Linked DNA regions of Homo sapiens. The protein of the gene in region 4 purifies or fractionates together with the protein of the main gene of each other region. This does not show direct contact. Each region holds a gene or a part of one and is shown on either strand. Other genes may lie near its edges.

Region 1 (3,500 bases), on a different chromosome or scaffold from region 4:
CACTTTTTTTTTTTGGAGATGGAATTTCACTCTTGTTGCCCAGGCTGGAGTGCAATGGTGCGATCTCGGCTCACCGCAACCTCCGCCTCCTGGGTTCAAATGATTTTCCTGCCTCAGCCTCCCGAGTAGCTGGGATTACAGGCATGTGCCACCACGCCTGGCTAATTTTGTATTCTTAGTAGAGTCAGAGTTTCTCCATGTTGGTCAGGCTGGTTTCGAACTCCCAACCTCAGGTGATCCGCCTGCCTCGGCCTCCCAAAGTGCTGGGATTACAGGCGTGAGCCACCGTGCCTGGCCTCTGTTTAACCTTTTAAAGTGGTTATCAGGCTGGGCACTGGGGCTCACGCCTGTAATCCCAGCACTTTGGGAGGCTGAGGCGAGAGGATCGCTTGAGGCCAGGAGTTCAAGACCAGCCAGGGCAACATAGTGAGAATCTATCTCTACAACCACCACCACCACCACCACAAGAAATTAGCTGGGTGTGGTGATAGGCACCTGCAATCCCAGCTACTTAGGAGGCTGAGGTGAGAGGATCGCTTGAGCCCAGGAGTTTGAGGCTGCAGTGGGCTATGATCATATTACTGCACTCCAGCCTGGGCAACAGAACAGGCCCAGCCTATAAAAAAAAAAAATGAGGTATCATACTACATTTTGTTTTCTGTCTTGTTTTCTTTTTCTCTCACCAATATCCATGTCATCAATACAAAACTAACTTAATCTTAATGTCTTTTTCTTATTATAGTAAACATTCTTATATATATCTGAATACTTATGAAATAGGTTACATAGCACAGATTTTTAGAAGTATTTTGAATTTATGGATTCTACCAAGGTCTTCCAAAATGCTGCCTTCCACCAAACCTTTAAAATTTTACATAGAATGCTCCTCCTCACTTCCCAACATTGTTCCCAGTGCTGGATATTACCAACCTGAGAGGCGAAATTAAAATATATTTCACTGTTGTGTCTTTGCATTTTACTGACTGCCATGGAAATATTTACACCTTTTCCTAAGTTCATTCACCATTTGTATTTATTATGTGAATCACCTGTTCATATTCCCTTTGCCCATTTTCTATTGTTTGTTACTTATTGATTTGGAGGAGTCCTTTGTATATTATAAACATTTACTTTTTGTTATATATGCTACAATTATTCTTTTTATCTTTCAATGTTATTTTTCTATATAGAAGTTTAAAAATTTTTAATGTACTCACATCTGCTAATTTTTTCCTTCTGAATTTTGTCTATTAAGAAAGCCTTTCCTACCTCAAAACTATAAAAATGATTTCATATTTTATAAAACATATAGATCTTCAGCCATCTAAAATTTATGTGGCATATAACAGTATGGTGTGAAAAGATATCCTGTAACAAAAATTTCAAAATAACACTTTAAAGGGATAGCCTCCAATAATCTGGAAAGTTCACATATGCACTTCAGTTTTTGAAACCATGTAATTAATGAAATGTTATATTTAGAAGTATGGAGCTAAGCATTTTGCCCCTTTTAATATCATTTAAAAAGTGGGCCTAAGGATGTACTTTGCATTATTAATGTCAATAAACATTCTAAGTAAGAACCCGAGCACCATGACGTGAAAAGAGAACATGGGACAGGGTCATGCTGAAGCTGCTCAGCAGCACTTGTCTCTCACCAGGACAGTCTCAACCCAGAGGTTTCCTGACTTAGAGAAACAAATAAAAAAATAAAAAGAAAAAATAAAAACTCTTCCTCAAAGGAACAGTAACTTTGAAACCTGATAAATGAAACTTATATCTACCCAGCCAACCACTTAGCTTTCCCTTTCTTTTCTTAGGCAACACCCTGACAGACTTGTTAAAACCATCAATTTTATCTTCTTTCATTCTTTAGAGAAGAATAACATTTTTTAGATTTAAAAATAAAGGATGAGTGAATCTAATTCCTGTAACATTGACTTCTGTCTGAGTTACTCAGCTAGGACTGGGCATTCAAAGGCCTAAGAGTTCATACATGAACACTCCAGTAATTATGGTAGCAGGGTTACTATGGGAAATAGCACTTCCCACTTGAAACTGTACTGATTCATCAAGGCATATTTATCCAGTGCTATCAGGAGCTCCCTAAGTATCAGAAAACATTGCATTTATATTATAATATCTACTACAGCTAAACTCTGTAAGCTAGTTGAGGTATTTAGATATTTTTGTTTTGTTTTGTTTTAAACAGAGTCTCATTCTGTTGCCCTGGCTGGAATGCAGTGGTGTCATCTCAGCTCATTACAATCTCCACCTCCTGGGTTCAAGCGATTCTCATGTCTCAGCCTCCTGAGTGGCTGGGATTACAGGCTCCTGCCACTATGCCCAGCTAATTTTTGTATTTTTAGTAGAGACGGTTTTCACCATGTTGGCCAGGCTGGTCTCGAACTCCTGACCTCAACTGATCTGCCTGCCTTGGCCTCCCAAAGTGTTGAGATTTGTAAGCCACGACACCTGGCCTTAGTTACAGTTCTTTTTGAAATTTGTTAACTTAAGGCTTTATCCTTCCAATATGGAAAAAAAAAAAAAAAAGCAGTGAGTTATCAAGAATTAGGTAAAGGCAGGCTGAGCTGACAAATGCCTTACTGCCTTTTCCTTTTTCTGCATCAGGCAGAAATGCCCCTCAAAAAGACCCAGTATTAAAGGAAAGCTTGAATCTGTTTACCACCAAGAAGAAATAAAGCAGTGGTTCACAAAATGTGGTCCGTGGACCACCAGGGGATCCACGAGGTCAAAACTATTTTTGTAATAACAATAAGATATCATTTGCCTTTTTTACTGTCATTATTTTACAAGCGTTAAGTAGAGTTTTTAGGGGTGACATGATGTGAGATATTGCAATGTGAGTGCAAAAGCGGAGAATCCAGCTGTCTTCTTTTTGCAAAGGGATTTGCAAAAAAAGTAAAACAATACAACTCCTCACTAATTTTTTTCTCTTAGATAATAGAACTGTTTTTTTCTAAATATTATTTAACATATTGGTTTACTATGTTTAATTCATTAATATTTTAAAAAATAGTTTTAATTTCTAATAAGGAATTAAAACTTATATAAACAAAAGCTCTTTGTGGGGGGGGGGGTCTTCGATAATTTTTAAATGTGTAAAAGAGTTCAAAGACTGAGAAGTCTGAGAACTGATGGACAAATGCAAAGTCTTTCTGAATATTTTGTATTAGGACCCAAAATTTCTAGGTGTGCCACTGCTCAACCCTCATGAAGCCATCTTAATGTGTTTTCTTGTCTGGAGTCTGCACATAGAATCCAAACTCATGAAATACACACTGTGTGCCCAAAAAAGTGCTCAGAAATCTGTCTATGAATGTTAGTCTGTTCTTTTGGATAGCATGAAGCTTTTACTTACTTGGGGAAAGAGTGGTCTCTCATCTCTTTTCTTTTTGAGGCACTCTGCCATTAATCTCTTCATGGCTTTTGGACAGTTACTCCGTACCTTACTGAGATCTGGAGACAGGTATCCTCGT
Region 2 (3,500 bases), on a different chromosome or scaffold from region 4:
CTGCAGAGACAGGGTCTTATTATGTTGCCCAGGCTGGTCTGGAACTCTTGGGCTCAGGTGATCCTCCCATCTCAGCCTCCCAAAGTGCTAGGATTACAGGTGTGAGCCACCATATCCGGCCTCTACAAAAAATTTTTAAAAATTAGCCAGGTGTGGCCGGGCACGGTGGCTCACACCTGTAATCCCAGCACTTTGGGAGGCCAAAATGGGTGGATCACGAGGTCAGGAGATCAAGACCATCCTAGCTAACACGGTGAAACCCCGTCTCTACTAAAAATACAAAAAATTAGCCGGGTGTGGTGGTGGGCGCCTGTAGTCCCAGCTACTTGGGAGGCTGAGGCAGAAGAATGGCGTGAACCTGGGAGATGGAGGTTGCAGTGAGCTGAGATCGCGCCACTGCACTCTAGCCTGGGCGACAGAGTGAGACTCCGTCTCAAAAAAAAAAAAAAATTAGCCAGGTGTGGACCGGGCACAGTGGATCACGAGGTCAGGAGTTCGAGACCAGACTGACCAACATGGTGAAACCCCATCTCCACTAAAAATACAAAAATTAGCCGGGCGTGGTGGCGGGCGCCTGTAATCCCAGTTACTCGGGAGGCTGAGGCAGGAGAATCGCTTGAACCCGGGAGGCAGAGCTTGCAGTGAGCCGAGATTGCACCACTGCACTCCAGCCTGGGCGACAGAGTGAGACTCCGCCTCAAAAGAAAAGAAAAGAAAAGAAAATTAGCTGGGTGTGTTGGTGCGCACCTGTGGTCCCAGCTACTTGGGAGGCAGAGGTGGGAGGATCGTCTGAGCCCAGGAGGTTGAGGCTGCAGTGAGCTACAATCACACCACTGCACTCAGGACAGAGCAACAGAACCAGACCCTGTCTCAAAAACAACAAAACAAAACAACAACAACAAGAAACCGCTAGGCGTGGTGACTCACACCTGTAATCCCAGCACTTTGGGAGGTGGAGGCAGGCGGATGACCTGAGGTCAGGAGTTCGAGACCGGCCTGGCCAACATGGCGAAACCCCGTCTCTACTAAAAATACAAAAATGAGCCTGGCGTGGTGGTGGCAGATACCTGTAATCCCAGCTACTCGGGAGGCTGAGGTGAAAGAACTGCTTGAACCTGGGAGGTGGAGGCTGCAGTGAGCCGAGACTGAGCCACTGTACTCCAGCCTGGGCGACAAGAGCAAGACCCTGTCTCAAAATGAAAAGAAAAAAACCTCTCGGGGAATGAAGGGAACATGTACACTGTACTAACGCCAGAACTCTCAGTTGGGTCTGCAGTGTGGAGGTTTCCTAGCAGAGCCTTTCTTCCTAGGGCTCTGCAGTGTATGGACAGGAAAACCATGGCATGGTCCCCACCAACACCCCAGCACTGTCCCCAGCTGTCGGGAAAACCTGGGGCCTGCGGGGATGGGAGGAGAAGAGGAGCCTCTGGGGCTGCAGCCAGGAACAAGGGACAGGAGGGGAGACAGTGAGCCAGGGGTCGCCCCCAGCTGAGGGGAACAACCTAAAATCACTAGCCTTAGCCTGTGCCGACAGCAGAGAGAGCGAGCCCTGAGCAGCTTCCAGTCCAGGCCCTGCCTTCAACATCACTCACTCATTCATTCATTCATTAGCCACAGAACACCTTCTGTGTACAGGCCCTGGCAAGACACTGAAGACCCAACCATGACCAAGCACCTGCCCTGGTTCCTGTCCCTGGGAACATGCAGGGGGAGAGGCTGCCACGGAGCACAGATTCACCCAGGGTGCCTGGCAAGCGGGGTGAGAAAGGAGGGTACATGTTGGGGTCTCAGCAGGAGCAGGGCCGGAGGTCCCCTAGAGCACCTTTGCTGGCCGGCTGGAGGGAGACGCCTGTGCTTTTGGGTCTCCACTTTGCCTGTCTCCCAGACAGGGCTGCCTCCCCTCACCCCCAGCCCTCAAGCTTTGGAATCTGAAATTTTCTTTGCTGACCCACCAGAGAAACTGGGTTTGAATCCCAGCCCATGATTTTTGTTTTGTTTTGGAGACAGGGTCTTGCTTTGTTGCCTAGACTGGAGAGCGGTGACAAGATCATAGCTCACTGCAGCCTCGACCGCCCAGGCTCAAGTAATCCTCCTGCCTCAGCCTCCAGAGTAGCTGGGGCTGCAGGAGTGTGCCACCATGCCTAATTTTTGTATTTTTTTTTTTGTAGAGACAGGGTTTCGCCATGTTGGCCGGGCTGGTCTCGATTCCTAGGCTCGAGGGATCCTCCTGCCTCAGCCTCTCTGAGTGCTGCTATCCCCTCAGTTTTTACCTATTCTTTACCTCTTGCAGCCTCTGCCTCCCCATCTGTGACCTGGGAGCTGCAGGACCTTTCCTGGGGCACATTATGGGCCTCAGTGAGATGGGGCAGGTCAAGTCTGGCATAGGCTTAGCACACAGTAGACCCTCAATAAAGATCTAGCCAATGGCCAGGCGCAGTGGCTCACACCTGTAGTCCCAGCACTCTGGGAGGCTGAGGTGGGTGGATCACCTGAGGTCAGGAGTGTGAGACCAGCCTGGCCAACATGGCGAAACCCCGTCTCTACTGAAAATACAAAAACCAGCTGGGCATAGTGGCACGTGCCTGTAATCCCACATACTAGGGGGGCTGAGGCAGGAGGATCGCTTGAACCTGGGAGGTGGAGCTTGCAGTGAACCGGGATCGTGCCATTGCACTCCAGCCTGGGCAACAGAGCGAGACTCCATCCCAAAAAAAAAAAAAAAAAAAGATATAGCAAATGAATGAACTGGAGCCTCCAGCAGATGGGTGGGAACTCAGAGGGTTTGAATGACCACAGTCTGCCCAGAAAGCACTCGGACCCCCTCTAGGATCAAGAGAACTGAAGCTCAGAGAACAGCACGTAGCTACTGGGGAGAGGGCTGGTGCCAGGCCTGTGTGACTCTTGTCTAGGTGGGGAGGCCGGACAGGTGCACCCTTCCTGGCCTCCAGGGAAGGGGTAACCTTGGAGCTTGGGTTTGACAGAGAAGCATGAGAAGTTCAGAGAGCCCCAGGGTGGAGAGGAAGGTGAGTAAAGGGGCAGGGCCGGGGCACAAAGGACATTGAAAGGTATGCTTGAGAACGGGGTGGGTGGGAGAAGCTGGGAGCCACAGATGGTTCTACAGTGTGGAAGAAGTACAGACTACCGAAGCTGTGGAAGACGTAAGGACTACTGAAGCTGCCAACCTGTCCTGGCATCCACAGTTGCATCCCTGGCAACGCGCACTCCACTTATGGGGTGGCCACTGTGTGTGACCTGGAGCTGGGATTAAAACCAGCAACTTGGGTCCAGGCATAGTGGCTCACACCTGTAGGAACCCCAGCACTTTGGGTGGCTGAGGATCGCTTGAGGCCAGGAGTTCAAGACCAGCCTGAGCAACAGAGCAAGACCCTGTCTCTACAAGAAAAACTTTATAATAAAAACAAATAAATAAAACTGGCCGTGCGCAGTGGCTCACGCCTGTAATCTCAGCACTTTGGGAGGTGGAGGTGGGCGGATCACTT
Region 3 (3,500 bases), on a different chromosome or scaffold from region 4:
GGCACCTGGAGCTGCCTGCCCCGCTGCAGCAGTCAGCACGTCTGTGCGCAGTGGCTGGACCCCACGCTCACTCACACACGCCTCGCTGTTCCACGCCTGACTCGCCCTTGGCAGGCTTGGGACCCAGGCTGGTAGTGTGAGCTGAATGCAGCCTGTCAGGCCAAGTGGGTGAAACAAGACCAGTGGGCCCAAGCAAAACTTGGGCAAAGGCGCCACCGGCCACAGAAGTTTCTGGCCAGAAAATCAACACCCCAAAGATCCTGTAACATTTTCATTGATATTTACAAACATGTAACAGTGAATAGTTCTCTAGTTATGTGAAGGCATACACATTCTGACAGAAATTCTGATTTTGGGAGTAGCTTTGCCAAGGTTCCTTTCTGTTTTGCAAAATGACAATGATTAAACTCACTTAAAGATTTTTATTGAATGATGACCAGTAGTTAAGCAGTTTATTATAAAAAATATTTTATTGTTACTTGTGCAGGTGTTCAAAGCTGAAACAGGAGAGAAACTTCTAGAAATCAAGGCTCATGAGGATGAAGTGCTTTGTTGTGCATTCTCTACAGATGACAGATTTATAGCAACCTGCTCAGTGGATAAAAAAGTGAAGGTAGGAAAATCTTTTCCTCTTGAGTTGTAATCACAACAGAATTCATTTTATTTTTCCATGATCATGAGACCAGAGTAAGTAGAGTTAAAGGACTCTCACCTGTTGATCTACTAACCTGATTCATTGTAAATTAACACTATCTGAAAATTCTTTACTTTTTTTTAAAGAGACAGGATTTTGCTCTGTGACCCAGGCTGGAGGGCAGTGGCATGATCATAGCTCACTGTAAACTCCAATTCCTGGGCTCAAGTGATCCTCCTGCCACAGCCTTCCAAAGTGTTAGGATTATAGGTATGAGCCACTGTGCGTGGCCTGAAAATTCTTTATTTTTAAACACCAGCAAAAATGCCTAGGTTGATCACCTCAGGATTAAACAAGCAGTGGGGAAAAGCAATGACAAATTAGTGAGTTTGTCTTCCATTAATAGACAAGTCCATGGGTTAAATATCAGTTGAAATCTTTGAGTGCATTGTGATTAGGAGTGTTGCTGCACAAACTTGGGGATTCCTGTTGTAAGATACAATTTTAAAATGCAACCCCAATTTTTTTAATTTGCTTATGAACTGGCTTATATATTCAGTGGAAAACCAGGTGGATGAACAAACTAATAATTACGTTACTGGTCTAAAAACATAAATAGAGAAAAGTAAACAGAGTAATTTTTACTTATTTATTTTGAGGCAGAGTCTTGCTCTGACACCCAGACTGGAGTGCAGTGGTACAATCTCGGCTCACTGCAATCTCTGCCTCCAGGATTCAATTGATTCTTATGCCTCAGCCTCTTGAGTAGCTGAGATCACAGGTGTGCACCACCATGCCCAGCTAATTTTTGTAGTTTTGGTAGAGACAGAGTTTTGCCATGTTGGTCAGGCTGGTATTGAACTTCTGGCCTCAAGTGATCCGCCTGCCTTTGACTCCCAAAGTGCTGAGATTATAGGCATGAGCCACTGTGCCCCGCCAGAGAGTAATTTTTATTTTTGTTAAGTATTCTCTTGTTCCTAAATTTGGCTTCTACCAGGAGCATTTATACTAATATAGAATTCAAGAGAAACTGAAGGCTTGTGGGGGTTATCACTGATATATGGAAGACAGACCTTACTTTAACCCTTTTTCAAAGGGGTTAAATCTGGAGTACTGGATGTAGCTAGGTGGAGTGGGCAAGAAATTTGCCTTGGGTGTTTTCCTGAAGTTTTCACCTACTGGAAGAGGGCTATGGAATGTCCAGACTAAATTTGAGACCTTGGAAAAATCTACCTCTTGATAGATTGGACTCGTGGCTTAACCAACAGTTAATTCACTCTGTAGTGTCTACTCTGACTCTGAGTCAGACTTGGAGGTGGCCACTGAGGGCAGTTCTAAAGTCAGAGCTACATGGAGTAAAAGGAAATAATAATGAGTTTCTGTTTTCTAAGCCAGAGGTAGAAATACCTATTAAAGAACTTTAAAATAAGATAAACTCTCTGGACCTCTGGGGATTCTAATCAGTGCTTTGATAACATACAAAGGAAATGCCAAAGGACATTAGTACCTCTAAAAAGTCAAAATCCCAGTGAAGGTTCATTAGGTAATTTATTTCTTTTGTTTGTTGTTATATGGCATAGACTGCTTAGTTGTCTTACATAGTAACTAGAATGATGATTAATTTTTTTGTTTTTTTTTTTTTTTTTTTGAGACGGAGTCTCGCTCTTTCGCCCAGGTTGAACTGCAGTGGCGCTATCTCGGCTCACTGCAAGCTCCGACTCCCGGGTTCATGCCATTCTCCTGCCTCAGCCTCCCGAGTAGCTGGGACTACAGGCGGCCGCCACCGCGCCTGGCTAATTTTTTGTATTTTTAGTAGAGACGGGGTTTCACCATGTTAGCCAGGATGGTGTTGATCTCCTGACCTCGTGATCTGCCCGCCTCGGCCTCCCAAAGTGCTGGGATTACAGGCGTGAGCCACCGCGCCCGGCCTGATGATTACTTTTTACTGAAAACTGAACACTATAAGAGGCTATAAATACTACACACTTTGTCATATTACATTATCAATTTCCTGCTACAGCTTGCAGGGTTAAGTGTCGATCCCGTTTACAGAAGAGGACGCAGATTCAGAGATGAAGTCTCTTGCTCAAGCTTACATTAAACTGGGAACAGTAATAGGGTTGAAAGCTGGGTTTCTCTCAGACTATAAAACCTTTATTTTTTTTAACTAAGCAATCTGCCTTTACTTATTTATATGGTACCTTGAAGTCCATAGAACACTTGTCATGTTCATTATCTCATTTGATATCTTAAATTGTGTGGGAGAGGTATAGATATCCCCATTTTACAGAAGAGGGAACTGAGATGCAGGTAAGTTAGGGATTTGTGACACACAAGTCATAAGTGGTAGAGCCAGCTCTTGGGCTCAACCCTTCTGACCAGAAATCTATTATGCTAACCTCTTTAAAGCACTTCTCTGCCTGCTTTCATTCATATAAACATGTGAAATCTTGCCCTTAAGAAATGTCATGTGTTCATGACACTCTAGTTATGCTATAGGTACATATATGTATATTTGCAAATAATTTTTTTTAAACATTAAGGCAAAATATTGCCATATTTTAGAAAGGGGAGAGGTTTCATTAGCATCTTGTCCAACTAGGAAAATCTGCTATGACAGGATAAGATAGCATTTGCAAAGCAATGGACATTGCTTTGCCCCTCTGTTCTCCCTTTGAAAATAATGGATATTTGTAAATTTTTTCTCTTTTCTCTTTAGATTTGGAATTCTATGACTGGGGAACTAGTACACACCTATGATGAGCACTCAGAGCAAGTCAATTGCTGCCATTTCACCAACAGTAGTCATCATCTTCTCTTAGCCACTGGGTCAAGTGACTGCTTCCTCAAAGTAAGTGTGGATATT
Region 4 (3,061 bases):
GAGGTGGGGACAAATTGGCAAAAAACAAAAGAAGTGGATTAAGACCAGGGGTAGGGAGATTAGAACACCCAGTGGAGCATTGCTGATGGGACAGGGCTTGGTCTGTCACGGCCAAGGAGGCCTGCCGTCCCCTGGGCCAAGTCACCTCTTGGGGTGGAAGTAGGGGAGCTCCACTGCCTTTCTGAGCTCCCTGGCGTGCCCTGTGTCCCCACAGACCGGCCAGGCCTCATGAACGTTCCACGGGTGGAGGCTATCCAGGACACCATCCTGCGTGCCCTCGAATTCCACCTGCAGGCCAACCACCCTGATGCCCAGTACCTCTTCCCCAAGCTGCTGCAGAAGATGGCTGACCTGCGGCAACTGGTCACCGAGCACGCCCAGATGATGCAGCGGATCAAGAAGACCGAAACCGAGACCTCGCTGCACCCTCTGCTCCAGGAGATCTACAAGGACATGTACTAACGGCGGCACCCAGGCCTCCCTGCAGACTCCAATGGGGCCAGCACTGGAGGGGCCCACCCACATGACTTTTCCATTGACCAGCCCTTGAGCACCCGGCCTGGAGCAGCAGAGTCCCACGATCGCCCTCAGACACATGACACCCACGGCCTCTGGCTCCCTGTGCCCTCTCTCCCGCTTCCTCCAGCCAGCTCTCTTCCTGTCTTTGTTGTCTCCCTCTTTCTCAGTTCCTCTTTCTTTTCTAATTCCTGTTGCTCTGTTTCTTCCTTTCTGTAGGTTTCTCTCTTCCCTTCTCCCTTGCCCTCCCTTTCTCTCTCCACCCCCCACGTCTGTCCTCCTTTCTTATTCTGTGAGATGTTTTGTATTATTTCACCAGCAGCATAGAACAGGACCTCTGCTTTTGCACACCTTTTCCCCAGGAGCAGAAGAGAGTGGGGCCTGCCCTCTGCCCCATCATTGCACCTGCAGGCTTAGGTCCTCACTTCTGTCTCCTGTCTTCAGAGCAAAAGACTTGAGCCATCCAAAGAAACACTAAGCTCTCTGGGCCTGGGTTCCAGGGAAGGCTAAGCATGGCCTGGACTGACTGCAGCCCCCTATAGTCATGGGGTCCCTGCTGCAAAGGACAGTGGGCAGGAGGCCCCAGGCTGAGAGCCAGATGCCTCCCCAAGACTGTCATTGCCCCTCCGATGCTGAGGCCACCCACTGACCCAACTGATCCTGCTCCAGCAGCACACCTCAGCCCCACTGACACCCAGTGTCCTTCCATCTTCACACTGGTTTGCCAGGCCAATGTTGCTGATGGCCCCCTGCACTGGCCGCTGGACGGCACTCTCCCAGCTTGGAAGTAGGCAGGGTTCCCTCCAGGTGGGCCCCCACCTCACTGAAGAGGAGCAAGTCTCAAGAGAAGGAGGGGGGATTGGTGGTTGGAGGAAGCAGCACACCCAATTCTGCCCCTAGGACTCGGGGTCTGAGTCCTGGGGTCAGGCCAGGGAGAGCTCGGGGCAGGCCTTCCGCCAGCACTCCCACTGCCCCCCTGCCCAGTAGCAGCCGCCCACATTGTGTCAGCATCCAGGGCCAGGGCCTGGCCTCACATCCCCCTGCTCCTTTCTCTAGCTGGCTCCACGGGAGTTCAGGCCCCACTCCCCCTGAAGCTGCCCCTCCAGCACACACACATAAGCACTGAAATCACTTTACCTGCAGGCTCCATGCACCTCCCTTCCCTCCCTGAGGCAGGTGAGAACCCAGAGAGAGGGGCCTGCAGGTGAGCAGGCAGGGCTGGGCCAGGTCTCCGGGGAGGCAGGGGTCCTGCAGGTCCTGGTGGGTCAGCCCAGCACCTGCTCCCAGTGGGAGCTTCCCGGGATAAACTGAGCCTGTTCATTCTGATGTCCATTTGTCCCAATAGCTCTACTGCCCTCCCCTTCCCCTTTACTCAGCCCAGCTGGCCACCTAGAAGTCTCCCTGCACAGCCTCTAGTGTCCGGGGACCTTGTGGGACCAGTCCCACACCGCTGGTCCCTGCCCTCCCCTGCTCCCAGGTTGAGGTGCGCTCACCTCAGAGCAGGGCCAAAGCACAGCTGGGCATGCCATGTCTGAGCGGCGCAGAGCCCTCCAGGCCTGCAGGGGCAAGGGGCTGGCTGGAGTCTCAGAGCACAGAGGTAGGAGAACTGGGGTTCAAGCCCAGGCTTCCTGGGTCCTGCCTGGTCCTCCCTCCCAAGGAGCCATTCTGTGTGTGACTCTGGGTGGAAGTGCCCAGCCCCTGCCCCTACGGGCGCTGCAGCCTCCCTTCCATGCCCCAGGATCACTCTCTGCTGGCAGGATTCTTCCCGCTCCCCACCTACCCAGCTGATGGGGGTTGGGGTGCTTCCTTTCAGGCCAAGGCTATGAAGGGACAGCTGCTGGGACCCACCTCCCCCTCCCCGGCCACATGCCGCGTCCCTGCCCCGACCCGGGTCTGGTGCTGAGGATACAGCTCTTCTCAGTGTCTGAACAATCTCCAAAATTGAAATGTATATTTTTGCTAGGAGCCCCAGCTTCCTGTGTTTTTAATATAAATAGTGTACACAGACTGACGAAACTTTAAATAAATGGGAATTAAATATTTAAGAGCTGACTGGAAGCTGACTCAGTTACTTGCATGTTTTTCCTGGGGCTTACAGGGCTCCACGCCTCCTCCACATCCAGTACTGGAGGGCAAAGGAGGCTTTGGGCTCCAAAACCCTCCCCTGCCTCCACCTCGCTTTGCTCACCGCTTGTCAGTCAGGTGGACGACTATGCCATTTCCGCCCTGCAGAGAGAATTTGGGGTGTGAGGGGACAAAGGACTTGTGGTGCCCTGGCCTCACCTGGTGGAGCACTTGGGGTCTGGGGAAGGGGAAGGCCCCTGGAGGAGGCGGATGCAGGACTCAATAGATCAAAGCCAGTTTTTCATCACCACAAGAGATCACGGCTTTCCTCTCCTTTGCTGCCACCCAGCTCTCTCCTGTCTTTCCTGAGTGCCATCTCCCCAGCGGTCCAGTCGAGCCCAGCCCCCGGCAGCCATGGGTTTGTTTGCAGTGTGAGGCCAGGTCAGGGTGTGTAACAGAGTATGTGTTTAGTCAGGAAAAA
Region 5 (3,500 bases), on a different chromosome or scaffold from region 4:
AGAAGAGAGGAGGAGAGAGAAGGGGAGCGGAGGGTAACAGGGGAGGGAAGAGGAGAGGAGAGAACAGGAGAGGAGGGGAAGGGAGGGGAACAGAGGGGAGGAGAGGGGAGGGGAGCAGAGGGGAGGGGATGGGAAAGAGGAGGAAAGAAAAGAAGCGTGGAGAGTGAGTCCAAGGTTTCTGGCCTGAGCACCTAGAGGGGTGGGAGTTGCCATCACTGAGACGGAGAAGCTGCGTATGTGTGCATGGGTGGTGCGCAGAGGGGCAGGTTAGGGTGGTGGAGGTGAGGTCTGCACATGGGAAGAGATATTCACACTGAGACATGGCAGAGACCAAACCAGGACACTGCATTACCAGTCATTAGGTGTTCTTGGTAATTCAGCCATGCATAAGGAAATCAACAAACGTCTCCTTCCCTGTTAGCGTGACACATGCCACCCTGTGGACCCCAAGGGAGATGGTTAAAGTCCTGGCTCCACAGTGGGAGGCCTGGGTGCTATGGAACCCATGAGAACACAGCCTGGGAAGCCCTCTGAGGCTCAGGACCGCGCCTCATGACTTCTGAACCCAAAGTGGCCACGATGACTCGGAACACCCCCCTCTCCCGGGCCCTCTTCAGGGACCTCTCTGTGGCTGGCTGTGAGCAGGACCAGCTGGGCACCAAGTGGGGCCCACATCTGGGTGCAGGGGGACACGCACCCAGCTGTCGGCGCTGCTGATCATTCTTCAGTGTGGCCAAGGGTGTCAGCCCCTCTGGCATGTGGTCGTAGAGCTGGGACAGGCACTTCTCCTGGTGGTCCAGATCCGTGCCTGGCTTCACTGCAAAGAGAACCACAGGTTAAATCCCCTCTCATGGACCTGGCCACAGACCCACGTAGAGATTTCTCTACCATGTCTCCAGCTTCCTTTTTTCTGCAGTTTCACAAGGCATTTGGGATCATGGGTCTCCTTTCTGCCCCCGGACACACCCCAGGCCGTCTAACCCTCAAGGTTTTCTTTTCTTTGAGACGGTCTCACTCTGTTACCAGGCTGGAGTGCAATGGCACAATCATAGTTCACTGCCGCCTTGAACTCCTGGGCTCAAGTGATCCTCCCACCTCACCTCCTGAGTAGTTAGGACTACAGACATGCACCACCACATGCCAGGCTAATTTTTAAATTTTTTTGTAAAGACAAGGTCTTGCTACATTGCCCAGGCTGGTCTCAAACCCCTGGGTTCAAACGATCCTCCTGCCTTAGCCTCCCAAAGTGCTGGGATCAAATGTGTGAGCCACTATGCCTGGCTACCCCAAAGCTCTTGCTCACTGGGACCAGTCACACTCCAGAGGTTCATAATTTTTTTTTTTTTTTTTGAGATGGAGTTTCGCTCTGTCACCCAGGCTTGGGTGCAGTGGTGTGATCTTGGCTCACTGCAACCTCCACCTCCCGGGTTCAAGCGATTCTCCTGCCTCAGCCTCCCGAGTAGCTGGGATTACAGGCACATGCCACCATGCCCGGCTAATTTTTGTATTTTTAGTAGAGATGGGGTTTCAGCATCTTGGCCAGGCTGGTCCTGACCTCGTGATCCACACCGATTTCGGCCTCCCAAAGTGCTGGGATTATAGGCGTGAGCCACCACACCCGGCAAGGTTTGTAATTTGACCCTGAGCCCCCACACGCTACCTCCTCCAACTCACCCACCACACAGAACCTCCTGGCATAGCCCAGACCCTGTCATGCCCGGCCTGCACCCCTCTGCGGGCCTGCACACCTGCAGCAGAGCCCCTTCCTGCTTCAACCACACCCTTCGTGGCGCGCATCCTGCTCTCAAACCTCACAAAACCACTCTCCACTTCCCCAGCACCCTCCGCCTCTGTTCTGTGCTCAGACACTTTACTCCCTCTAGGCTGACCCTTCCCTCCTGTGCAGATGGAAAAGTTGAACTCAAATGTCACTGCCTCTAAGAAGCCATCCATGACTGTACCATGGAGTCCACCTGCTGCTGCATTTGTGTCTCTACAGCAATCACCGAGGCACTATATGGTATTTCTATTTGTTTTCACATCTTGTCTCACCTAATAGACTATATAGTACTAGGAGTGGCGGCTCACACTTTCAGAGAACCTACAGTATATAAAGCATTATTGAGCTTTGCGTACAGGCCCTTCGTTTTCGTTTTCATGACAGCCTGTGAGGCAGGTTCTCTCCATATACCCATTTTACAGATGAGAAAATTGAGGCAGAGGACAGCTAAGTAACTTGCCCAAGGTAAAACAGCTCATTCATGGAAGAGCTGAGATATGAACCCAGGAAGTCTGGCTCCAGAGGCTGTCTTTTTAATTCCTTGGGAGGCTGCCTGGATTAGTACTCATTAGATCAAAAATCCCTGGCCAGGCACCATGGCTCATGCCTGTAATCCCAACACTTTGGGGAGGCCAAGGCAGGACAACTGCTTGAGGCCAAGAGTTTGAAACCAACTTAGGCAACATAGTGAGACTCCATCTCTATAAAAAAAAAATTTTTTTTAATTAACTGGTGTAGTGGCATGTGCCTGTATTCCCAGCTATTTGGGAGGCTGAATTGGGAGGATCGCTTGAGCCCAGGAGTTCAAGAAGGCAGTGAGCCATGATCATACCACTGCACTCCAGCCCCATCTCTAACAATAAAATAAAATAAATAAAATAATAAAATAAAATAAAATTCCGATCATCACAGATTTTTTTTGCATTAATTTTTATTTTATTATTATTAGTTTTTTTGAGATGGAGTCTTGCTCTGTCACCCAGGCTGGAGTGCAGTGGCACAATCTCGGCTCACTGCAACCTCCACCTCCCTGGCTCAAGCCATTCTCCTGCCTCAGTCACCCGAGTAGCTAGGATTAGAGGCACGTGCCATGCCCTGCTAATTTTTGTATTTTTAGTAGAGACAGGGTTTCACCATGTTGGCCAGGCTGGTCTCAAACTCCTGACCTCAAATGATCTGCCTGCCTTGGCCTCCCAAAGTGCTGAGATTACAGGCATGAGCCACAGCACCTGGCCTGCATTAATTTTGATTCTTTTAAAATATTACCTTAAAATGTTACTTATCTTGATGCCAGCATTTTTGGCCTTCCCTTAGATTCTAGATTCCAGGTGAAAATTCATCCTCTTGCACCCAGGCAGAATTAAAGGTGCCTCTTCTTCCTCCCTCTAAAGAAGCTTATAACCCCTAACCCCACCATGGCCTGTGCGGCAGCTGCCTCAGTCATGGGTCACTCCCATCCTCTGCCTTCAGCCTGTGAGCATCTCCAGGGAAGGCAGTTAGCTCTCACTCAGCTCAGAATCGCCCCTGGGGCAGCTGGACCACAGCCCTCGCCAAACTCCCGAACCCCCCAGGCCTTACCCTGGTGGTCGATGAGGAGGATGGCAGTGAAGTAGTGGGCCAGGGCCGCGTAGTGGTGGGCCTTCACGCAGGCTAAGCTGGCCCAGGAGTAGGGGATGTTCTCTTTCACCGGCGCCTGGCTCATGGCTGCGTGTAGCTGTTG
Region 6 (3,500 bases), on a different chromosome or scaffold from region 4:
CTGTGCTACAGAAATACAAGTGTAACTGCACAAAATTACATACTAAGATTTTTTACTTCAGCAATTTATACAAGAGTAAAATGCTATAAAGAACTTAATCATCCAGCTGGGCATGGCACTCACACCTGTAATCCCAGCACTTTGGGAGGCCGATGCTGGCAGATCACCTGAGGTCAGGGGTTCAAGACTAGCTTGGCCAACATGGCGAAACAATGTCTCTACTAAAAATACAGAAAAAAAATTAGCCAGATGTGGTGGCGCGTGCGCCTGTAATCCCAGCTACTCAGGAGGCTGAGGCAGGAGAATTGCTTGAATCCAGGAGGTGGAGGTTGCAGTGAGTTGAGATGGTGCCACTGCATTCCAGTCTGGGCGAAAGAGTGAGACTGTCTCCTAAAAAAAAAAAAAAAAAATAGGAACTTGGCCGGGCGCGGTGGCTCATGCCTGTAATCCCAGCACTTTGGGAGGCCGAGGTGGGTGGATCACAAGGTCAGGAGATCAAGACCATCCTGGCTAACACGGTGAAACCCAGGTTCTACTAAAAGTACAAAAGAATTAGCCAGGCGTGGTGGCGGGTGCCTGTAGTCCCAGCTACTTGGGAGGCTGAGGCAGGAGAATGGCGTGAACCCAGGAGGGAGAGGTTGCAGTGAGCCAAGATCGCGCCACTGCACTCCAGCCTGGGCGACAGAGCGAGACTCTGTCTCAAAAAAAAAAAAAAGGAACTTAATCATCCATTAATGGAGGATCTGTTAAATATATTTACAGTACAGCCATATAATGGGAATCAGTGAACAAAACAAGGGAGATCTATATGAAATGATGTGGAAGAATGTCCACATGGAAAAGTCACGTAGCAGAAGAATGTGCATATTATGATTAGCTTGGAAAAAAAGAAAAAAACAAACTTTTTTTTTTCAGATGTAGTTTCGCTCTTGTTGCCCAGGCTAGAGTGCAATGGCGTGATCTTGGCTCACCGCAACCTCTGTCTCCCGGGTTCAAGCGATTCTCCTGCCTCAGCCTCCCAAGTAGCTGGGATTACAGGAATGCACTACCACACCCGGTTAATTTTGTATTTTTAGTAGAGATGAGGTTTCTCCATGTTGGTCAGGCGGGTATCGAACTCCCAACCTCAGCCTCCCAAAGTGCTGGGATTACAGGTGTGAGCCACCACGCCCGGCCAAAACAAACTATTTAGGTAGGTGTGTATAAAACTGATAAAATAATCTGAAAATATACACATTACATTTTATAATGAGGGGAGGTGGAACAGCTACTTTTGACATTTCTCACTTGAATGGCATATTTCATTTTGTAACAAAAAAAATCCCCATCTTTTAAAGATAAAAATGAAAACGTTAACTTCAAAGTTTTCACATGAAATTTCTAAAGGGGAGAAGAATCCTCATAAAATGCATATGTATTTATTCAAATATTACATACAGCTGAAATTGCCTTTTAAATACAAGTAACCTCAGTGAACAGATAAATACAAATTGCTCCACTTTGAATGGTGTTACACTTACGATCTTCTCGAAAATATGTCTGCAACAATCCCAAGATTCTTTCTACTTCTTTCTCTGTTGCTTCTTGATGAGATTCTTCCATTCTTCTTAACTGAAAAAAGTCATTATCAAGCTGACAGACCTACTTACTGGCCTATTAACGTTTTCTTCTCTCTTGCACACCCAAACTCCTTTTCTTCTCTCTTGCACACCCGAACTCTTTTTTTTTTTTGAGACAGGGTCTTGCTTTGCCACCCAGGCTAGAGTGCAGTTGCATGATCTCGGCTCACTGTAACCTCAGACTCCTGTGCTCAAGGGATCCTACCACCTCAGCTTCTTGAGTAGCTGGCACTAGAAGCGTGCACCACTACACCTGGCTAATTTTTTTTTTTTTAATTCATTCTACCTTGTCTAAGACACCTGGCTAATTAAAAAAAATTTTTTTAGATATGGGGTCTTGCTGACCATCCTGGCTAACACGGTGAAACCCCATCTCTACTAAAAATACAAAAACTTAGCCAGGTGTGGTGACAGGCGCCTGTACTCCCAGCTACTCAGGAGGCTGAGGCAGGAGAATGGCATGAACCCGGGAGGCGGAGCTTGCAGTGAGCCGACATCGCGCCTGTAATCCCTGCGCTGTAGGAGGCTGAGGCAGGTGGATCACAAGGTCAGGAGTTCGAGACCAGCCTGGCCATTATGGTGAAACCGTCTCTATTAAAAAACACCAAAATTAGCCGGGCATGGTGGTGCCTGCCTGTAATCCCAGCTACTTGGGAGGCTGAGGCAGGAGAATGGCTTGAACCCAGCAGGCGGAGGTTGCAGTGAGCCGAGATCGCGCCACTGCACTCCAGCCCGGGTGATAGGGCAAGACTCTGTCTCAAAAAAAATTATGGTTTAAAAAAAAACAGATTTTCTGGTTTCAGTAACTTTTTTTTTTTTTTTTTGAGATGGAGTCTTGCTCTGTGGCCCAGGCTGGAGTGCAGTGGTGCCATCTCGGCTCACTGCAACCTCCGCTTCCCAGGTTCAAGCAATTCTCCTACCTCAGCCTCCAGAGTAGCTGGGATTAGAGGCACCCACCACCACATCTGGCTAATTTTTTGTACTTTTTAGTAGAGACAGGGTTTCACCATGTTGGCCAGGCTGGTTTCTAACTCCTGACCTCAGGTGGATCTGCCCGCCTTGGCCTCCCAAAGTGCTGGGATTACAGGCGTAAGCCACCACACTCGGGCAACCTTTGTTTTTTTTGAGACGGACTCTCGCTCTGTCGCCCAGGCTGGAGTACAGTGGCATGATCTCGGCTCAGTGCAACCTCTGCCTCCTAGATTCCTAATTCTCCTGCGTCAGCCTCCCGAATAGCCCGGACTACAGGCACCTGCCACCATACCTAGCTAATTTCTGTATTTTTAGTAGAGACGGGGTTTCCCCGTATTGGCCGGGCTGGTCTCGAACTCCTGACCTTGTGATCTGCCCGCCTCGGCCTCCCAAAGTGCTGGGATTACAGGCGTAAGCCACTGTGCCTGGCCTCAGTAACATTTTCATATCAATTTCTTAATAGAATAGTAACATTACCAGATTAACCATTTTCAGGTTGAACATAAAATAGCAAAATACAAAAGGGCGGTTTAGAAACAGTGGTTCTCGAGTGGGTGTGACTTTCCCCCCACCTCCCCAGGGAACATTTGTTGTCACATGTAGACATTTTTGGTTGTCACAACTCAGGGGTCGGGGGGGCTATTAGCATATAACAGGTAGAGGCTGGGGATGCCGCTAAGCATCCTACAATGCGCAGGACAGCTCCCCAAACCAACATTATCCAGCCGTAAATGTTGACAGTGCTGAGGTTGACCCTGGCTTCGGAGAACTGATCAAAACTAGAGAAATGAGTTAAAACAAAGACAAGCAGCCAATCCAATAAAATGCTTAAAGGCTTAAATAAAATGATTATTTAAGTGACAAAACCTGGCTCCAGACCCGCACACTTAGAAAAAATGGCCAAATTGC
Region 7 (3,500 bases), on a different chromosome or scaffold from region 4:
CAACATCCATTCTGCAGCCCACTGATCAAGGAGTAACTTTGACTTTTAAGTCTTATTTAAGAAATATATTTCATAAGGCTATAGCTACCATAGATAGTGATTCCTCTGATGGATCTAGGCAAAGTAAATTGAAAACCTTCTGGAAAGGATTCATCATTCTAGATGCCATTAAGAACATTCGTGATTCATGGGAGATCAAAGTATCAACATGAATAGGAGTTTGAAAGATGATTCCAGCCCTCACAGATGACTTTGAGGGATTTCAGACTTCAACGGAGGAAATAACTGCAGATATGGTGGAAACAGTAAGAGAACTAGAATTAGAAGGGGAGTCTGAAGATGTGACTCAATTCCTGCAATCTCATAAGAAAACTTTAACTAATGAGAAGTTGTTTCTTATGGACGGGAAAAGAACGTGGTTTCTTGAGATGGAATCTACTCCTGGTGAAGATGCTATGAACACTGTCAAAATGACAACAAAGGATTTAAAATATGACAGAAGCTTAATTGATAAAGCAGGGTTTGAGAGGACTGACTCCAATTTTGAAAGAAGTCATACTGTGGGTAAAATGCTATCAAATAGCATCATGTGCTATAGAGACATCTTTTATGAAAGGGAGAGTCAACTAATGCAGCAAACTTCATTATTATCTTATGAAATTGCGATAGCCACCCCAACCTTCAGTAACTACTACCCTGATTGGTCAGCACCCATCAACATTGTGGCAAGACCCTCTACCAGCAAAAAGATTATGACTTGCTGAAAGCTGAGATGATCGTTAGCATTTTTTAGCAATAAATATTTTTAATTAAGGTATGTATGTTTTTTAGACAATTCTATTACACATTTTATAGACTACAGTATAGTATAAACACAGCTTTTTTTTTTTTTTTTTTTTTTTAAGAAATGGGGTCTCATGCTGTCATCCAGGCTGGAGTGCGGTGGTGCAATCATGACTCACTGCAGCCTCAAACTCCTGAGCTCAAGTGATCCAAGTAGCTGGGACTACAGGCCTGTCACATCACACCCGGCCAAAACGCATAACTTTTATATGCAATGGGAAACAAAAAAATGTGTGTGACTCACTCTATTGTGATATTCAGTTTACTGCAGTGATATGGAACTAAGCCCACAATATCCCTGCGGTATGGCTGTACAGTATAAGAATCACCTGAAGGGCTTATTAAAAACAGCTTGCTTGACCCCCTCCCTTAGAGATTCCGATTCAGTAGATCTGGGTTGGTCAAGAATTTGCATTTCTAACAAGCTCCCAGCTGAGGCTGAGGCTGCCATTCAACATACTACCAAGTAGCACTGGCATAGAGAGATCCCTGGAATAAAATTTACCTACTTGTGTGTGTGTGTATGAATGTGTGTGTGTGTGTGTGCGTGTGCATGTGCGTGTGTGTGTATACAGTCTTGCTCTGTTGCCTGGGCTGGAGTGCAGTGGCGTGATCTCGGCTCACCATAACCTCCGCCTCCCAGCTTTCAAGCGATTCTCATGCCTTAGCCTCCTGAGTAGCTGGGATTATGGGGTGCGCCACAACGCCTGGCTAGTTTTTGAATTTTCAGTAGAGACTGGATTTCACCATGTTGGCTAGGCTGGTCTTGAACTCCTGGCCTCAAGGGATCCACCTGCCTCAGCCTCCCAAAGTGCTGGGATTACAGACATGAGCCACCATGCCCAGCCCTTACTTGTATATCACAATAGTGAGATGATTACTTTTCAACTTTCTTCTTTGTATTTTTTAGGTATTTAAATTTTTTTACAATGAATGTTCCATCTTTACCCAAACAATAAAATCTTTATTGTAAAGAAAGTTAGAAGCAAGAAACATTAACATTTTTTATAACTACAATTTGTATAAAAGCTTTCTCTGTGATCTTTAGTTTTTCTTTCTTCCTCTGAAAAGCTGAATAGTGTTTAATTAAACTCTCAAAAGTATCAAGTTTTTGTCTATAAAATGGCAAAACTGGCTATGATGAAATAAACTGATATTTGCTATTTCTAATAAAAGCATACAATATATTCTTTCTTACCAGATTCAAATAATATTTAACGCCAACATATTAGTCCAAGTCCTATCATCAGTCAGATTTATCAGAAAGGTATGAAAACCCATGCCTACTATAAGGACCAAAATAGCCTAATTCAATACTACTTTGAAAACATGGGGATGATGTTACTACGTAATTGTTTTAAGTACAATAACCACTGATCACATTTGAACTCTCAGGATACTTCAATATTTCTTTTGGACAACTATGACCTGTTTAGTAAATTACCCCCAAATACTTTAATATAGTTTTACAAATCGCCCCAATGCCAGAGACCCAGATCAAAAAGAAAATAATGGTATGGGTCAGATTCACAGAATAAGCACTAACTTTTATGCAAACTGAAAATAAAGATTTTATCTAAAAGTTATTTGGGGAAAATAAGCAGACTTTATCAAGAATTAGAGCTTGGTAAGAAGGTAACAGAAACCCATTGTGAGAAACAGGTTGACTCTGTGTAGCTTTCCATAGTAGAGTTTAGAGTTTCTTGTCATGATTACCTTATCAATGCAGTATAATAACTACTTACACAGCACTTACATTGTATTAGGTATTATAAGTAATCTACAGATGATTTAAAGTATATGGGAGGATGTGCATAGGTTATAGGCAAATACTACACCATTTTATGTAAGGGACTTGAACATTAATAGATTTTGGTATCCTCAGAGGTTCTGGAACTAATACGCCATGGATGCCAAGGGACAACTGTACTTAGAAGTAGAACGTCTCTGCTCTTCCTACATGTCCTTATTTTTAACAACTTCTGTTCTTACAAATAATCCTAAATCAATCAATAAAACTTCCAATTCTATTAACAGCTTAAAAGCACCAAGAAATACTCTGATCATTCATTCAACTGCCAAAGAAAATGACAAACGAGTACTTTTCCTCTTTTAAACCAAAAAAAGTTTTTGGTTTAATACTAACAAAAGCTTTAATACTCATTTTAGATATTCCTCTAATACATCTATTTACAATATATCACAGAACTATATTCTGGTTATTAATAATCTCACTTCTTACCAGGGTCTGCTAATCCAGTGGTCTCTAACAGTATGTCATCAAATTTCCCCTTCTTTTGCATCAAATTCTCAATAGCTCTAAGGCCATTGTCCCTGGAGAATACCAAAACATAATTTACAGTTAATTACCTAAATATTTTGAAGTGATTATTATAAACACTTTAAAATGTATTCAACAACCCGAGACAAAAGTATCCTTAGGAATGTGAAAATTTAACTCACTTCTAACCTTCTAACAAAATGTCTGTCCCATATTTACCAGTGAGAAAACAATAGATGCATATATATAATAGGTAAAAAGAAATCATATACATAATAATACTTTATTAAAATTAAAAGCAGAGGAAACTTTATCTGACCAAGTATCTTTTTATAGCTTTATGAAATTTTTAAAAACCAACATACAAAATAATGAT

Evidence for each region.
Region 1: the proteins of PPARD (region 4) and BRAF purify together in Homo sapiens (pull-down; one large-scale study listed by IntAct). This does not show direct contact.
Region 2: the proteins of PPARD (region 4) and MEX3D purify together in Homo sapiens (affinity purification with mass spectrometry; one large-scale study listed by BioGRID and IntAct). This does not show direct contact.
Region 3: the proteins of PPARD (region 4) and APAF1 purify together in Homo sapiens (affinity purification with mass spectrometry; one large-scale study listed by BioGRID and IntAct). This does not show direct contact.
Region 5: the proteins of PPARD (region 4) and RHPN2 purify together in Homo sapiens (affinity purification with mass spectrometry; one large-scale study listed by BioGRID and IntAct). This does not show direct contact.
Region 6: the proteins of PPARD (region 4) and NSMCE4A purify together in Homo sapiens (affinity purification with mass spectrometry; 2 studies listed by BioGRID and IntAct, with this or other methods). This does not show direct contact.
Region 7: the proteins of PPARD (region 4) and ZNG1C purify together in Homo sapiens (affinity purification with mass spectrometry; one large-scale study listed by BioGRID and IntAct). This does not show direct contact.

The regions. Positions count from the first base shown.
Region 1 is NC_000007.14:140,736,430-140,739,929, forward strand, and holds part of BRAF (serine/threonine-protein kinase B-raf), read right to left. Parts: coding exon 3,383-3,500; intron 1-3,382. UniProt on the Homo sapiens protein: Protein kinase involved in the transduction of mitogenic signals from the cell membrane to the nucleus. Phosphorylates MAP2K1, and thereby activates the MAP kinase signal transduction pathway. Phosphorylates PFKFB2.
Region 2 is NC_000019.10:1,561,826-1,565,325, forward strand, and holds part of MEX3D (RNA-binding protein MEX3D), read right to left. Parts: intron 1-3,500.
Region 3 is NC_000012.12:98,679,790-98,683,289, forward strand, and holds part of APAF1 (apoptotic protease-activating factor 1), read left to right. Parts: intron 1-487; coding exon 488-613; intron 614-3,353; coding exon 3,354-3,485; intron 3,486-3,500. UniProt on the Homo sapiens protein: Oligomeric Apaf-1 mediates the cytochrome c-dependent autocatalytic activation of pro-caspase-9 (Apaf-3), leading to the activation of caspase-3 and apoptosis. This activation requires ATP. Isoform 6 is less effective in inducing apoptosis.
Region 4 is NC_000006.12:35,425,618-35,428,678, forward strand, and holds the end of PPARD (peroxisome proliferator-activated receptor delta), read left to right. Parts: intron 1-214; coding exon 215-462; 3' UTR 463-2,561; downstream 2,562-3,061. UniProt on the Homo sapiens protein: Ligand-activated transcription factor key mediator of energy metabolism in adipose tissues. Receptor that binds peroxisome proliferators such as hypolipidemic drugs and fatty acids.
Region 5 is NC_000019.10:32,998,889-33,002,388, forward strand, and holds part of RHPN2 (rhophilin-2), read right to left. Parts: coding exon 3,359-3,500; intron 818-3,358; coding exon 698-817; intron 1-697. UniProt on the Homo sapiens protein: Binds specifically to GTP-Rho. May function in a Rho pathway to limit stress fiber formation and/or increase the turnover of F-actin structures in the absence of high levels of RhoA activity.
Region 6 is NC_000010.11:121,961,718-121,965,217, forward strand, and holds part of NSMCE4A (non-structural maintenance of chromosomes element 4 homolog A), read right to left. Parts: intron 1,612-3,500; coding exon 1,521-1,611; intron 391-1,520; coding exon of another isoform or gene 284-390; exon of another isoform or gene 36-283; intron 1-35. UniProt on the Homo sapiens protein: Component of the SMC5-SMC6 complex, a complex involved in DNA double-strand breaks by homologous recombination. The complex may promote sister chromatid homologous recombination by recruiting the SMC1-SMC3 cohesin complex to double-strand breaks.
Region 7 is NC_000009.12:68,248,483-68,251,982, reverse strand, and holds part of ZNG1C (zinc-regulated GTPase metalloprotein activator 1C), read right to left. Parts: intron 3,178-3,500; coding exon 3,086-3,177; intron 1-3,085.